Linked DNA regions of Homo sapiens: region 1 is linked to region 2. A link means that fine-mapping ties the variant in region 2 to the expression of a gene that starts in the linked region. Tissue or cell type: fibroblasts. Region 2 holds a variant in brackets; the other region holds the start of a gene. All regions are shown on one strand. Distances are from middle to middle.

Evidence for each region. PIP is the estimated chance that this variant, and not a neighbour inherited with it, causes the effect.
Region 1: STRN starts here. The variant in region 2 is fine-mapped to the expression of STRN in fibroblasts (GTEx, PIP 0.92).

Annotation. Positions count from the first base shown.
Region 1 is chr2:36,962,282-36,970,388 of GRCh38, forward strand. It overlaps STRN (striatin), which reads right to left and starts at 4,255. Exons shown (of 18, transcript NM_003162.4): 1 at 3,949-4,255. The coding sequence starts at 4,182. RefSeq lists silencers at 215-410, 3,936-4,745.
Region 2 is chr2:36,879,044-36,887,150 of GRCh38, forward strand. It overlaps STRN (striatin), which reads right to left. Exons shown (of 18, transcript NM_003162.4): 8 at 7,673-7,783; 9 at 4,889-5,032. Among named protein-coding and RNA genes, the nearest start is that of STRN, 83 kb to the right of the region's middle. The variant T/A (reference allele first, on the strand shown) is at 4,859.

The DNA.
Region 1 (8,107 bases), 83 kb after region 2:
GCTACTCAATCTTGCCACCTTTTTCATACAACTCTAACACTTACAGGTAAATATCAGGGCCTCTCCTACACCACACACCACACACATATCAAAATCTAGGGCCAACATTTTTTATTTTTTATTTACATGCCTGCTTTCTCATAAGTCAGTAATTTTCAAATACTGAGCCTTAGGTTCTCATGAACTCATAAAGTTCTTTACTCCTGCTATTCTCCCCATTCACTGCTGGCTCTTCTCTCCTTCACTATTCTTTTTTTTTTTCTTAAGATGGAGTCTCATTCTGTCGCCAGGCTGGAGTGCAGTGGCACGATCTCAGCTCACTGCAACCTCCGCCTCCCAGGTTCAAGCGATTCTCCTGCCTCAGCCTCCAGCACACACCACCATGCTCAGCTAATTTTTGTATTTTTAGCAGAGACAAGGTTTCACCATGTTGGCCAGGACGGTCTCGATATCTTGACCTCACGATCCGCCTGCCTTGGCCTCCCAAAGTGCTGGGGATTACAGGTGTGAGCCACCGCGCCCGGCCTCTCCTTCACTATTCTAAAGAAATTAGCCTTCTCCCCAAATGATAAACACTCTGATTCTTCTACAAGTTATATCGTACTAATAACTAGACTGCATGTTTCTTTGAGGTCATCTAGCACAATGCCTCACATACAGAAATTTTTCTCAAATATTATTAGTATTCCTTCTCCAATTCCTTTCACAAATGTAAAGCTCACTAATAATCTTAATCATTCTTTTTTTCCCCCCATGAACTACTGCCTAATCTCAACTGGATGTGAGGAGGGGAGCATTACCAAAAATAAAAAGAGAATTTATCAAATAAGATGAGCAAGAGTGAAATAAGTGACAAATAAATAGGTTTTTGCTATAACGTGGCCCTTTCCTTACTCCCAAGATCTGAAGGAGGGAGGAAGCAGTAAAGGCAGGCCAGGCAGATGAGAGCTTGGATTGCCTTTCACAAGTCTTCCCTGGCAACCTGAAAGAGCAGGACTGACAGGTTCTTGAAGAGGCAAATTTGACTTCATCTTAAAGGTATTTGTGTTGACTCTGGTGTTAATGGCTTAGGAAGAGATTTAAAAATTAAAAGGAGGACACCAACTGAGCCGTATTTCATCACAACGCATTCAACTATTTTACTTCCTATTGTGTTTCTAAGAAAATTCCAGTAGCAAAAGAAAAATAAAGAAGATTCAAATGTAACGATGGTAATAATTTTTTTTCCAATTACACTAATAAGGGGGGACAAAGACCAGAGATTACTGCAAACTCTTCCCCCCAAAATATATCATATTCATCCTGTTAGGAAAATGACACATTTTTAAAGTTTCTCTGTGGAAACTTTAATTGGAACACAAAACAGAAAATGCTGTCAAAAAAGTAGTGTCCTTGGCCGGGCACAGTGGCTCACGCCTGTAATACCAGCACTTTGGGAGGCTGAGGCAGGCAGATCACTGAGGTCAGTAGTTCAAGACCAACCTGGCCAACATTGTGAAACCCCGTCTCTACCAAAAATACAAAAATAAGCCAGGCATGGTGGTGCATGACTGTAATCCCAGCTACTTGGGAGGCTGAGGCAGAAGGATTGCTTAAACTTGGGAGGCTGAGGCAGAAGGATTGCTTAAACCTGGGAGGCGGAGGTTGCAGTGAGCTAAGACTGCACCACTGCACACCGGCCTGGGCAACAGAGCGAGACCCTCTCTCCAATAAAAGGAAAAAAAAAAAGGAGTCTCTTTAATATGATAAGCACCCATGGGAAAGCTACCTGAAGTTAATAAACATTTGCCACAAACAACCCAGGAAGGGGTGTTTGGAGATGTGTGCATAAAAACTGAAGATCAACTACAGTTACCAGTAAATTGAAAAGTTTAAACGAGGAGAGGGAGTGAACGGGGCGGGGCGGGGGGAAGGATGGGTTGGAATTCCCCAACTTCTACAGGTAGAAAGGTAAGCATTGTTTTCTGGTGTGTGTGTGTGTTTTGTTTTTGTTTTTTTTTTTTTAACCAAATTAGTGTGAGTTATCTATATTCCCAAAACTGGAAAAGAAATTAAATTTTAAGTAACTAATACAAAAATCATTCCCCACAACTGCACAACATTAAAGTTAAACTTTGCCTTTAACATTTCCTTGAATCCTGAAATCCACACCTTTTATAGAATGCGCTGCTAATAAAGATCAATCTGTAAGTATTCAAATTTGTTGGAGACTATATAAACAAGGTCAAAGAAGACTTGCAAATATCAGATAGACTAGATCGACTAAATACTACAGCAATATAACAATAGGAATGAAAAAGTTGCCAAATAATATAAACATGTAACTACAGACTTACAAGGAAATCATAGAAACTACTGGTCACTCCCTAACTTCATTCAGCTGCTCATTTGTCATCTCTCAGAGGCCTACCCTGACTACCCCATCTAAAATAGCTGCCCCTATCACACGCTATTCCTGAACTCTGACTTATTTCTTCCTCACAGCAGTTGCCACTATAAGCCATTATATTCTATAGGCGCATTTGCTGGACTGTTTGCCTCTCCACTAAAACATAAACTCCATGAGGGCAGAAGCTTGGTCGGTTTTCTTTCAACACAGGGCCTAGACACACAGCTGGCACTCAATACACAGGTGCTGAATAAAATACATGATAAAACTGAAACCCAGAGAGGTTAAAGGATTTCCTCAAGGTCACAGAGCTAGCAACAAACACAGCCCTTACTATAACCTTGTCTACTACAGCCTTGTGTGTTCGCTCTTTCCACAGCCACTTCCACTACACCAGAGCCTGTTCCAGCACATGATTCTATTTAACAGATTTCTCCTCTTCTTTTTTTTCTTAAGCGCCAAATACATGTTACCAAAAAAAGTGACACACTGGGTAGCATTTTAAACTCAAGTGTTTTGCCAACTAAAACTATACTCAAATTTCATAAGTATACAGGCTTAGCCCGTAAAACAGAAAGGCACAACTATTCATAGTTCTTTAAGTTCCTTTTGAAATTGGTGTGTATGCCCTGGAAGTTTTAAGAACAACCACTGAAAACCTATTCACCAATTCTGAATGGCTTGTAAAGTATCAGCCTCACTTTCATTCTTTTCAGAGCCCACAGTTATCTCCTCCCTGGATATACTTTATCTTGCAGATTATGCAAGGCAATGTAACTAACTTCAAAGTCCCTTTAGTTCCTTTTAAAGCACAAGAAAATCTCCCAAAACACTGAACATAAAATTAACCCTTGGGAAGTTTCAGATTCTGAGAACAGGAACCACCTCTTAACCATTCTCTCTGACTGCGATCATCTAGGTCCTTCATTCAAAATGCATTAATTGGAAATACCTAAAAGAAACGTGGGAGGGGGCCGGGGGGTCGGAAGAAAGTGGAGAACAGACATTTACATATATAAAAAAAGGGATCTGATATATGAATAACACTTTTGCCCAACGTCAACTTCTCGCCTCGACTCAAGGCCTGACACAACTTCTGTTGTCTTCTTGATCACCTTCCTTGAAGAGAGGGGCCAAAGCCGGCACGTTCTGCGGAGACTGTCTCTAGACCTAGGAAGGGGCACACCAGGGCAGCGGACGATTTGCTCCGCGTCTCTCAAAACTACTGCCAGCCCAATTAGTAAACCGAGAGGGCAGCCCTGAGATGCAGGATGGCCAGAGAGTTGAAATGAGTCTGGGAGTTAAGAGTGGGATGGGGCGGACGAACAGGCGTGGGGAGGGTAAACAACGCACCAGGAGCGGGAGTGAGAACAGGGTCGAGGTGGGGTCAGCGAAAGGCAAAAGGCGAAGAGAAGAAGGGGACGGGGCTCCGGGTGGGATGGGCGGCAGCAAAGGGGGAGGGGACGCGAGAAGGCTGGGGGAGGGGGAGAAGGGTCCGGGGCGGGGCGGAAGGGAGCAAAGAGGCGGGATGAAGACGGCCAGGCCGGGAGGGTCTTTACCTGCAGCTCCGCCCGCTCCACCTCCCACTGGGCTCTCTCCACCTCGAAGCGGGCCCACTCGTGCTGCAGGAAGTGCAGGATCCCCGGGAGACTGTACTGGGCTCGGGCCGCCCCCGCCGCAGCCGCCCCGTCGCCGGCCGCGGCAGCCTCCGCCAGAGGCCCGAGCCCCTTGGCACCGCCGGCGCCCGGGTGGTTGTTGCTGAAGAAGACGCCGGGACCCGCCTGCTCGTCCATGGCGGCCGCAGATACCCGGGGAGCTGCCCCGGCGCCCAGCAGCGGAGGCAACAGCGGCGGCAAGCAGCGCCTCCTCCTCCCTCCGCCGCTCCCGCCCACACCCCAGTCAGCAGGGAGCAGCCTCCTGGGCGCGGGGGCCGGCCGAGCCCGTGACGGGCCGGGAAATGGGTCAACTGCGGCGCGCTGGCGGCCCGGGGCTTGCCGGGAAATGTAGTCGCGGGGCGGGGCGCGGGCTAGCGCGGCCCGGGCGGCCTGTAGGGCTGTGCCTCAGCTTGGGCGTGGCCTCGGGCCCGCCCCGCCCCGGCTCGCCGCGTAGGGGGCCGGCTGGGCGGGGAGAGCGGGTTTCCTCTGGGGCCGGCTGGGCGCGGGCGGGCGGGTCTCCAGTCTTCCTCGCACGCGGAAGTTCGCGGGCGGCGCACCCTGTTGCATTCAAAAACACACACACACACACACACACACACACACGGAAGTTGTCACGCCAAGATACCTGCCCGAGCTGCACATCTTTTAAGGCTTCCTGGCCGTTCTGTGAAGGAACAGGCTCAAAGCGAGCTACCCGGTGCGGCCGCGGGACCGGGGTTCTCCCGCCAGCTGCCCTGCGTGCTCTCGCTTCGGCTTCGTGTTCGGAGTTTCTCTCACCCTAGACGCTCCTCCATTCTGCCAATCTGCGGGTCGCTGTCGCTCTTGCCTTTCTCTTTTGACTCGAGGGGCTCAAACCTGTTACCTGACCAGTTTTCATTTCTAAGGAACGCCGATCACCTTTCTAAGACAACGCCGCAGCTTTCTGCTGCTGCTTCCAAATTGTGGTTTGTTGACAGCCCATCTGAAAAACTGCTCCGTTGAAGTTTCTTTCCCTTTGCAGTCCTCCTGCAGTAAATCCTGTAAAAGTTTTAGCATCCAATAATAGATGTTCTGTTATTTCGGTCTCATTTTTCCTATCTTATTCCCGCTGATTTTTACTCTACTTAATTGAACAAATATTTTGATTATCGGTTTTCTCTTGCGCTGGGAATATTAAGATAAATGACATCGTTTCTGTCATCAAAGATTGGCGTATAATCAAATATCACAAAGGCTTAATTTAAAAGCTACACCACCTTGAAAAAGCAAGTTCCCTTTCTGCTCCCTAGCGCGGTCTTAGATATCCTGGCCCCTCTCCGTTTTCACTTGTCCTGTTCCCAGTTTCTTTCACGATTCACCTGCCAACTGGCAACAGCATCCGCCTACCAAAGGTACACCAAAGTCCTTTCAAGTTACTCTCTGTAAATATTTGCCTTCTCCGAAGTCTGACAATATGTCACTATAAATTCACACTACAACAGTGGCAAAAAGGAAGGCCCCTGAAAACAATTTAACAAATGCAAATGAAATTAAGCACTTATTTTGTCACCCTAACAAGTTATCTGAAATTCTTACGTTTTGTAGGACGTACTTGTGGGTTATCAGACTTGATGGCCATGAAAAAATGTAAAGATCTAGGCTGCTGAGTGACATGTCAGGGAAAGACATCCTGTCCCTGTCCTCTCTCCCCTCCCCCCCTTTCCCATGGCTACTTGCAGAAAGGACAGGAAACACATTGTGTCTGCTCTGGTTGCAAATAAAGATGGAGAACTCTCTTCTCTCGCTTAATTAATGTTTCTGCTTTATGAATTCATTCTTTATTATCATCAAAGATTGATCCAGGCCTGGCCAAATTCCCTGTGCCATAACTTATTTTGGCTGTCAGTGTCCTTTGAGATACAGCCCAGTCTTCTCATTTACAGCTCAAGGAACTAAATTCCAAAAAAATTGAGACTTGTCAACAATGAGGCCTTGAGTGAGACGACATATCCGACAATTCCTTTAAGTCAATTCATAGCAGACACAAAATGTAATTAAATGTATAGATAATCTGGACTACCACACATATACAAAAACTATTTTAATTCGTAGTTCAACTTTATTACTCACAATACTTTTTTTGCTTTACGAGGACTCATTTACATTTTGGCCAGGCGCCATGGCTCACGCCTGTAATCCCAGCACTTTGGGAGGCCGAGGCGGGTAGATCACTGGAGCCTGGGAGTTGTGGGCAGGAGGCAGGAGAATAGGGTCTGGAGGCAGGGAACGTAAAGTAGATTCAGGCTGACTACCTAGAACTGAATCAAATGGAAATACTTCAGCTATAACAGGAAATGTCCTCTCCACTTACATAGGGCGCACACCAACTAAATGACGTTGTAACTTTACTTCATCCTCTTCATTTACATAGGGCGCACACCAAGTAACCAGTGGAAACCTCTAGAGGGTATTCAAACCCCAGAAAATTCTGTAACGGGACTCTTGATCCCCTATGCTCGGGCCTGCCCCTGCACTGTGGAGCCTACTTTCATTTTCAACAAATCTCTGTTTTTGTTGCTTCATTCTTTCCTTGCTTTGTGCGCTTTCCCCAATTCTTTGTTCAAGATTTCAACAACCTGGACACTCTCCACCGGTAACAGTTGGAGAACAGCCTGGCCAACATGGCAAAACCCGTCTCTACTAAGAATACAAAAATTAGCCAGGCGTGGTGGCACATGCCTGTAGTCCCAGCTACTTGGGAGGCTGAGGTACGATAATCGCTTGAACCCGGGAGGTGGAGGTTGCAGTGAGCCAAGATCATGACACTGCACTCCAGCCTAGGCAATACAGTGAGACTGTGATTCAAAAAAAAAAAAAAGTTTTAAAAAGAAGGCCTTCCCTTAGAGTTCTGGTGCCCTAAGTTGCCTTAAAACTATAGGACTATGAATCCCATAATTATCACTTATTGGTCCTGGCACGGTGGCTCATGCCTGCAATCCTAGCACTTTGGAAGACCGAGGCGGGTGGATTACCTGAGCTCAGGAGTTCAAGACCAGTCTGGGCAACACTGAGAAACCCCATCTCTACTAAAATACAAAAAAAAATTAGCTGGGCGTGGCAGCTTGCGCCTGTAATCCCAGCTCAATTCTCTCATTTTTTAATATGGGAATAATAGTCACCTAATAAAGTTGCTGTGAAGTTAAATGGAAGAAAAAAAGTAAATCCCCTCTCATAGTGCCTACTATATGGTATATTACGGAATAGTGATAGCTATTATTGCAATACAGTTCACAAGAGTAACTGAAACAATATATGTAAAAGAAACAGTCCCTGGTAAATTCTAGGGGCTCAATCATTGTTCTCTCCTTTCTCATTCCCTATTCAAAACTTTAAATTAGTAGAGTTAAAATAATCTTTAAAAAACAAAAACAGGGCCGGGTGAGGTGGCTCACGCCTGTAATCCCAGCACTTCGGGAGGCCGAGGTGGGCAAATCACGAGGTCAGGAATTTGAGACCAGCCTGGCCAACATGGTGAAACCCCGTCTCTACTAAAAATTAAAAAAATTAGCTGGGTGCAGTGGCAGGTGCCTGTAATCCCAGCTACTCGAGAAGCTGAGGCAGGAGAATCACTTGAACCTGGGAGGAGGAGGTTGCAGTGAGCCAAGATCGTGCCACTGCCCTCCAGATTGAGCGGCAGAGGGAGACTCCGTCTCAAAAAAAAAAAAAAAAACAGGCCGGACGGCGGTGGCTCACACCTATAATCCCAGCACTTTGGGAGGCAGAGGTGGGTGGATCACCTGAGGTCAGAAGTTTGAGACCAGCCTGGCCAACATGGTAAAACCCCATCTCTACCAAAAATACAAAAAAAATTAGCCAGGCATGGCGGTGTGCACTTGTGGTCCCAGCTACTCCAGAGGCTGAAGCAGGTGAATCGCTTGAAACCGGGGGGCGGAGGTTGCAGTGAGCCAAGATCACGCCACTGCACTGTAGCCTGGGCAACAACAGCGAAACTCCGTCTCCAAAAACAAAAACAAAAACAAACCATGAAAACAAAAACAACCCCCCCCAAAAAAAAAAAACTAACGTCTATGCCCAATCATTAAGC
Region 2 (8,107 bases):
CACCCGGTAAAGAAAATGTTTTGTTTATTTGTTTTTTTTGTTTTTTAGATGGAGTCATGCTCTATGGCCCAGGCTGGAGTGCACTGGCATGATCTCAGCTTACTGCAACCTCTGCCTCCTGGGTTCAAGCAATTCTCCTGCCTCAGCCTCCCAAGTAGCTGGGATTACAGGCGCCTGCCACCATGCCTGGCTAATTTTTGTATTTTTAGTAGAGACGGGGTTTCCCCATGTTGACCAGGCTAATCTCAAATTCTGATCTCAGGTGATCCACCGACCTTGGCCTCCCAAAGTGCTGGGGATACAGGCGTGAGCCACCACGCCCAGCGAGAAAATTTTTTAAAGTGTCCATTTGAACACTTTCATTAGCTGTGAACTGTGCTTCAAAGATGTCAGTTTTACTTTGTGAATAACCTGAAATATCCTATTTTGTAACATTTTGAACATAACAATCCAATTCCTTCAACAACCATCATAGAAAAATCAGTTAAAAGCAATATGTCTAATTAAAATAATGATTTTATTTAATTTGGTCAATAACAAAATGTCACTCTTTATAAATGCAATTTGTTCTGACAAACGTCAGAGATAGTCTTTGAGTAGTTTCCTACAGATGGTTACATATGACAAACATTTGTGAGTCAATAAGATGAATTTAGTAGTTCAAACCCTAGCTGCTAAAGGGGTAAATTAATTTTCTTAAAAGAAACAAGTCAACTGTATTGACTAGTGCACGTACAAGACATTTTTCAGTTTTATATTCAATCATGTCTATTAATAAATACTCATTGAATAAATGAAAGAATTGGCCAGGCTCGGAGGCTCATGCCTGTAATCTTAGTGTTTTGGGATACCAAGGTGAGAGGACCCTTTGGGGCCAGATGTCTGAGACCAGCCTGGGCGACAGGGCAAGACCCCTATATCTTAAAAAAAAAAAAAAATCTGAGACGGGGTCTCACTCTGTCACCCAGGCTGGAGTGCAGTGGTGTGATCTCAGCTCACTGCAACGTACACCTCCCAGGTTCAAGCAAATTCTCCTGTCTCAGCCTCCCAAGTAGCTGAGATTACAGGCACCTGCCACCATGCCTGGCTAATTTTTGTATTTTTAGTCGAGATGGGGTTTTGCCACGTTGGCCAGGCTGGTCTCAAACTCCTGACCTCAAGCGATCTCCCTGCCTTGGCCTCCCAAAGTGTTGGGATTACAGGCGTGAGCCATCATGCCCGGCCTCTACAAAATTTTTTTTAACAATTAACCAAGCATGGTGGTGCATGCCTCTAGTCCTAGCTAACTGGAAGGCTTGAGGCAGGAGGATCTCTTGAGCCCAGGAGTTTGAGGCTACAGTGAGCTATGACTGTACCACTGCACTCCAACCTAGGCAACAGAGCAAGACCATGTCTTTAAAAAAAATTTAAAAATAGTTACTTGCTTTTAAAAACAGTAGTGACAAACTCTTAAAATCCTCATCAGAACAAAATAGAGCATAAATTAAGACATTATCAAACTACCATACAATACAGTAGCAAAAATAAACATAGGTTTTACCCAAAATACCATATATCATCCGAGAAGTTCAAACAACTCTAAACATTTACTAATGAAGAATAGGAATTGTTGAAGTTACAACAGCAATTTTCAGGTCAAAAATATCAGTTGAATGACTCATGTGAGACTATGATGGTAGGTCTTCAGCCAGGTGTTTTTTGTTTGATTTGTTCCCATTTCTAACATTTCCAGATAACTTTGTTCAGGTGTAAAAGACTAAGATTCCTAGGATAGACCATATAAATTATGTAAGTTAATTCTAACTACTGCTCTACAAATGGCCAAGTAAAACCTGAAAACAAAGGAGGTAACAACTCCTTCCTTACATACCAGTGGACAGCCAGGACACTCCAGGACTGATGAGGCAGAGCAATAATAAGCATCACTGTTACCTGATTGTTCCTAAGGAGCCTTAGAACTTAAGACTATAGGTCACGTTTCCATCTGGCAACTAAACCTTCCTAGCCCTAATCAGCTTTTACCAAAAAACAAAACAAAACAAAACCCTGTGCCTTTTAAATGTGACACTGCCTTCTTTTTTTTTTTTTTTTTTTTTTTTTTTAAGACAGAATCTCACTCTGTCACCCAGACTGAAGTGCAGTGGTGTGATGTCAGCTCACTGCAACCTCCGCCTCCTGGGTTCAAGTGATTCTCCTGCCTCAGCCTCCCAAGTAGCTGGGACTACAGGCACACGCCACCATGTCCAGCTAATTTTTGTATTTTTATTTGAGACAGGGTTTTGCCATGTTGGCCAGGCTGGTCTTGAATTTCTGGCCTCAAGTGATCTGCCCACCTCAGCCTCCCAAAGTGCTGGGATTACAGGCGTGAGCAACTAAACTGCACCCGGCCCTGCCTTCTGAATTATTAAAATAAAAATAAAGTAACAAAATTATAGAGCACACACAGCATATGAACATTCTTTCTGAAAGTGGACTGAAGACCAAGAAGTATCAGTTATAGACAATTAAATATACAATCTATCTCTTAAATGTTTTTTCTATTTCCAAAAAACCTGCACTGAGGGGGAAGGCTTAGGACCACTGCTGCAGATAGTAAGTTAAACAAACATTCAATGCTTGAGTTTTAAAGTTCCTCACTATGTTTTTTATCAAGGACATCTTCTGTGGCTTACATAATGCTTTTGTACATCTGTCATTTAGTAAATAGTATATATCCTACCTCTATTATTAGAATTCTGCATAATTCATGTATGGCCTGAGATGAAATCTGATAAACTTTTTGAATTATGAGAATAAGAGAAAAACTAACTTTTCTCCTTATCTAGACCTGATTTTGGGATTAATGCAACTGATTAGAAGTCTCATACCTATAATGTCAACAGAATGCATCTCCTAGTGATCAACATACCTACTAAGGACCATGACCTCACATCTGTAATTCAAAAGACATCAAATAAACTTTACATCTACAGTGTGATGTGTTGATTCTTTGTATGGGTAATAAATTCCAAGTGCTATAATTGACTCTAACAAATGATTAACCATGTACTGGTCAAAAATTTCACTGAAGAAGTATTCCAATCGTGAAAATCTAGATACATCTAAATCATATCAGTTTATGTCTCTCTAAAATGTAATTTATTAAAAAAAAACAAGAAAAAAACATATGATTATGCTGTGGCTTTTTCTCAGGCTGTGTTGATCAATAAATAATAATTTGAAGAGACAATGCAAATATAGTATTTAAATTCAGAATTTTTTAAATAAGTATTTAAAAATATACATTAATCATAATTACTTTTATGTCATGCTGAATTTTCAGCTAATATAAATATTTGATTGTTTTAAGAGACAGGGTTTCAGTATGTCACCCAGGCTGGAGTGCAGTAGCTATTCACTGACTCAATCATCACGCACTACAGTCTCAAACTCCTGAACTGCGGCTGAGCCCAGTGGCTCATGCCTGTAATCCCAGCACTTTGGGAGGCCGACGCAGTTGGATCACTTGAGCCCAGGAGTTTGAGATCAGCCTGAACAACATGGCAAAACCATGTCTCTACAAAAAGCATAAAAAAGTTATCTGGGCATGGTGGCATGTGCCTATAGTCCTAGCTACTCAGGAGGCTGAGGTGGAAGTATCACCTGAGCCTGAGAGGTCAAGGTTGTGGTGAGCTGTGATTGCGCCACTGCACTCTAATCTGAGTGACAGAGTGACAGCCTGTCTCCAAAAACAAACAAACAAAAAACAAAACAAACCTCCTGGGCTCAAGTGTCCTCCCACCTCAGCCTCCCAAGGAACCACCAGGCTCAGCCTAAATATGTACTTCAAAATCAATTTCCACATACAAGCATTTTACACATTTATAAACAGATAAATCAGACCTTGTGTCTAAAAGAAAGAACTGTATTTATATACCATAAGATTACACTGCAAAAGACTAAAAATAACCTAAATATTCAAAAGTTTCATATCAAGTCTACAATATAATATACAATCTTAAAATTATCATTATGAAAATCATTTGTATGATTTTAAGAACACAAAATAGAATTATTATACATGATGTAGAATAATGCATATTTTTATATAGGTATATTCTATACCTGTATAAAAAGTATATACATGTGAGGCCAGGCATGGTGGCTCATGCCTGTAATCCCAGCACTTTGGGAGCCCAAGATGGGCAGATCACTTGAGGTCAGGAATTCGAGGCCAGCCTGGCCAACATGGCAAAACCCCATCTCTACTAAAAATACAAAAAAATTAGCTAGGCTTGGCGGCAGGTGCCTGTAATCTCAGCTACTCAGGAGGCTAAGGCAAGAGAATCACTTGAACCTGGGAGGTGGAGGTTGTAGCGAGCCAAGGTCATGCCACTGCACTCCAGCCTGGGCGATAGAGCGAGACTCCATCTCAAAAAACAAAAAAAAAGTATACACATGTGAACCAAGACTGAAAGGGAACAAGTTAAAATAGCAGAATATGTGACTAGACTTTTAGGTGACTTTATCCCCTTTTTCAATTATCATTAATAAATTGCTTAAATATTTATATGAGTTTCAAAGTAAACATTTACTACCAATTTACAGACTGCTAATTTTTCCAATGTTGGAATGGTATATATAGGGCCATGGGCATCAGTGGAGCCAGCGGATATTTTAAACCAGAATTTAGAGTTGGTTTTTAAGTGTATGCACCTTCTCAAGTCTTGAAGATTGAAGTTGGAATCAAACTCCCTTGAATGTAAGAAAGCTTGCATTTGGGGAAAACTATGCAGATCAAACATCTGCAGAATAAAGTTCTCTCTAATAGGAGAGGCCTTTCTAATGAATGAATTTAAAGATATACATCCAAGTGCAT[T/A]TTGTGCTCCAGAGTATCTTAAATACTTACCTTCATCTGCCCTATTAATTTCATGTTCAGGAAGCCTGGAGCTGCTGGGTCTGGAAGGTGAACCCACAGATGGCTGCAATGAAGGAAGTTCATCAACATCTCTCAAATTAGCAAGCATATCTTGTAGTTTTGACCTATTGGGCCCTAGCCAAAAAAAGGGGGGGTGGGAGGAGATAAAAAAGAGAAAAGAGAATTATCCAATTGCATCAAAATGGTATTATAAGCCTTATTTTCCATCTGTCAATATTTACCTTTAAAAATATTCTACTAGATTAATAAGAATTATTTTCAAGTTTTCAAATTACTGTAAAAGTTTATTTCTTGAAAAGAATTATACTTTTTAAATTAAGCAAATGGGATATCACTATTTACATAAAAAAGAATGCTCGTGTCCAGTTAGACCATGAAAAATAACATTCTTTAGCCACTGAATATTGCTCTAAATGCAGCCAGATACAGATTGTGAGCCTACTGTGCACTGAATTAAACAGTAACATCCCTGTTTGTTTAAATTAAGTTGCATTAATTGCCTTACATCCTGAAGCTATGGTACCCGAGGTGAAGTCTCATGCCCTACCGATTACTTACCTAAACTTTGATTCTTCATTCTCCCACATCCCTGTTTTGACTGTTTTATATAGGATAGAGGCTGAAACAGATCTTCAGTAGTTTTTCCTGTTACAAGTTTAATTAAGAATGGGAAAATCTTACCCAAAGTCTGTTATGGTTTGTTCCTATACCAGCAAAGAATACAACTATTTTTAAGCAATTTTTACTAATGCCTAGAAATGTATTTCAAGATGGTATGATTGGAGTACAGGATTTGACTGGAAATATCTCTACTAGACCACATTGAAAAGACTCAAACTTTTCCAATGAGTACTAGTTCAATTAAAAAAAAAAAATTTATGGTGGTTTATAACTCAATGCTTTATATATCAATTCAAAGCATGGCTTCAGTTCTATTTTTATCCTAAGTCTTTACTTGTTCCTAGATTGCTATTTTATCAAGATAACATGAACTGAAGACATTAAACAAAATGTGCTGAAATGTGTAGTCCCTCTCTCTTCAATGAAAGATGTTAAAATTTCTCCCTTACAGTGTCATTTTTCTTCACCATACTAAAAAAAAACCATGTGCTAGATGTCTGAACACATTTTAATCCCCCGATTTAAGAAATCCAATTGCTTCTATTAGTAGGAATATTGTTCCAGTCAAATGGTGCAGTTTCAGTTAAATTCCAACTACAGCAATGCCTTGATATTTGACAAGAACTGAATAACCAATGGAAAAGTAGATGGATTGTGCCTAAGTCCTGGTTACCTTTCCAACTAAAGGATCTTTTGTATTTCAAGACATTCATTTTTGTAGCATAATGACCTAAAGAAAAATATCAACATTAAGTTAATCTGGAAATTATTTCTCACATATGACATTCAAATTTTCCTCAAAATTTCAGTTTAACTGGTTTTTTGTCATGACTCTCAAAAGCCAAGACAAATCATCTCCCTATGCTTGTTAAGATTAAATTGTCTATCAGTAAGTATATTTGGCGAAAAGGTATGAAATGTGCTTATGTTTTAATATTAATCTTTCTCATTCTGATTTAATCTATCTTGAGATAGCATTACAACATCATCTCTCATTATGTAATGGTTTAACATCAATAACAGACACTGACTTTTTATCAAATCAAGCTAAACGCTTGTAATTTCTAAAATATTTTAAATAAAGGTTTAAATGCTTTTAAGTAATAAAGTTTAAAAGAATGTCCTAACAGGAATGACTGGTCTTTAATAAGCTTTAGCATCACTACAGAGAGAGAAAAAGAAAAAGCATACCTTTCCAGTCTTTCGCAACTTTAAAATACATTTCTCACTAAGTTAGATTTTAATCTCACTTTATACTACCTTAACATCTCAAATAATCAAATTCCTATTACCATAAAAGGGAGGCCCATATTGTCAACGAGGGTAGAAACACAAGGAGGTAATTTAGCCTTGTTCCCCTAAGAAGATGATTTAAGACTGTTTTCAGGAATGGTTTGTAAGGTTTTGTATTTCCATTTTACATTCTTAACTAGATCCATTGCTAAACAATTTGCATAATGAAATAATTAAACATATATGATTCACAGGGCTAGAAATTTCCTTTTGGATTTTGTTTTTGATGTGGCATACATTAAAAAGGAAAAAAGGTCATTGGTAATAATGTTATAAGTAAAATTGGCCAAAAATGTTTAAATAGAAAATAAATATTTTTAGAAGTTATATATTTGACTCTGTGCCCTGTATAGCATATAGTGGTATGAGCAAATGAACTGCATGTTATGAACACATAGAATATTCAGGGGTAGAAATTAACTTTCTGTCACCAATGTCTAAAATTATAAGCAATAATTTTGGTGGATTGCCAGAGGGTCACACTAAATGAGTTATAAATTGTCAATGAAAAAGAAAAACATTGTTATAATTAAGCACAGGTACTTTTAAAAATCAAATTATCACTGTGTTTGAATACATAGCCCAACACTCATGAGGCTCTGGATTTATTATTGGGATATAGTATACATGATTCCATAAGTACATGTGGGTTGTTTTCTTTTAAGTTCATAATTAAATAGCTAATCATTTAATTTCAACCCCTGAGAGCAGGTGAAAAGGAAAGAGGTCAGGAGCAGAAATGAAAAAGAGTAAGTAGATTTAGGAAAACATTGAAAAAAAAAACTGGGGGATGTAAAGAGGCAAGATTTATGATTTACAGATACAATGTTTTCCACTTACTCTTCACCCCCTTTTTCCCCTTTCTCTCCTTTTTGTATTGTTCCTTGAGTTTGGTAATTACTCCCTGGTCCACATTCCAGGCTTCAGGCATGAGACACTGGTCTTCCTTTTCTAAACAGAGTGAAACAAATGAAACAGCCTTTTTCAATAAAATATTGAACACTCTGAGTCAGTATGTCTGAATGACGTAACAACCACTTTCTTTATAGTATCACTAACTTAAAAAAAGTCAGTTTATTCATTTTATATATATAAGTCACACAAAAAAATATAATCACTAAGAAGAAATGATCAGTGCAATTTCCTAGAATCAGTTTCTCCTGAAAGACACACACACACACACACACACACACACACACACACACACACACGGAAGATTTTAGTGATTTTTAGTAAATTAAGCACAAACACTTTACAATCAAGAACTTCTCGGCC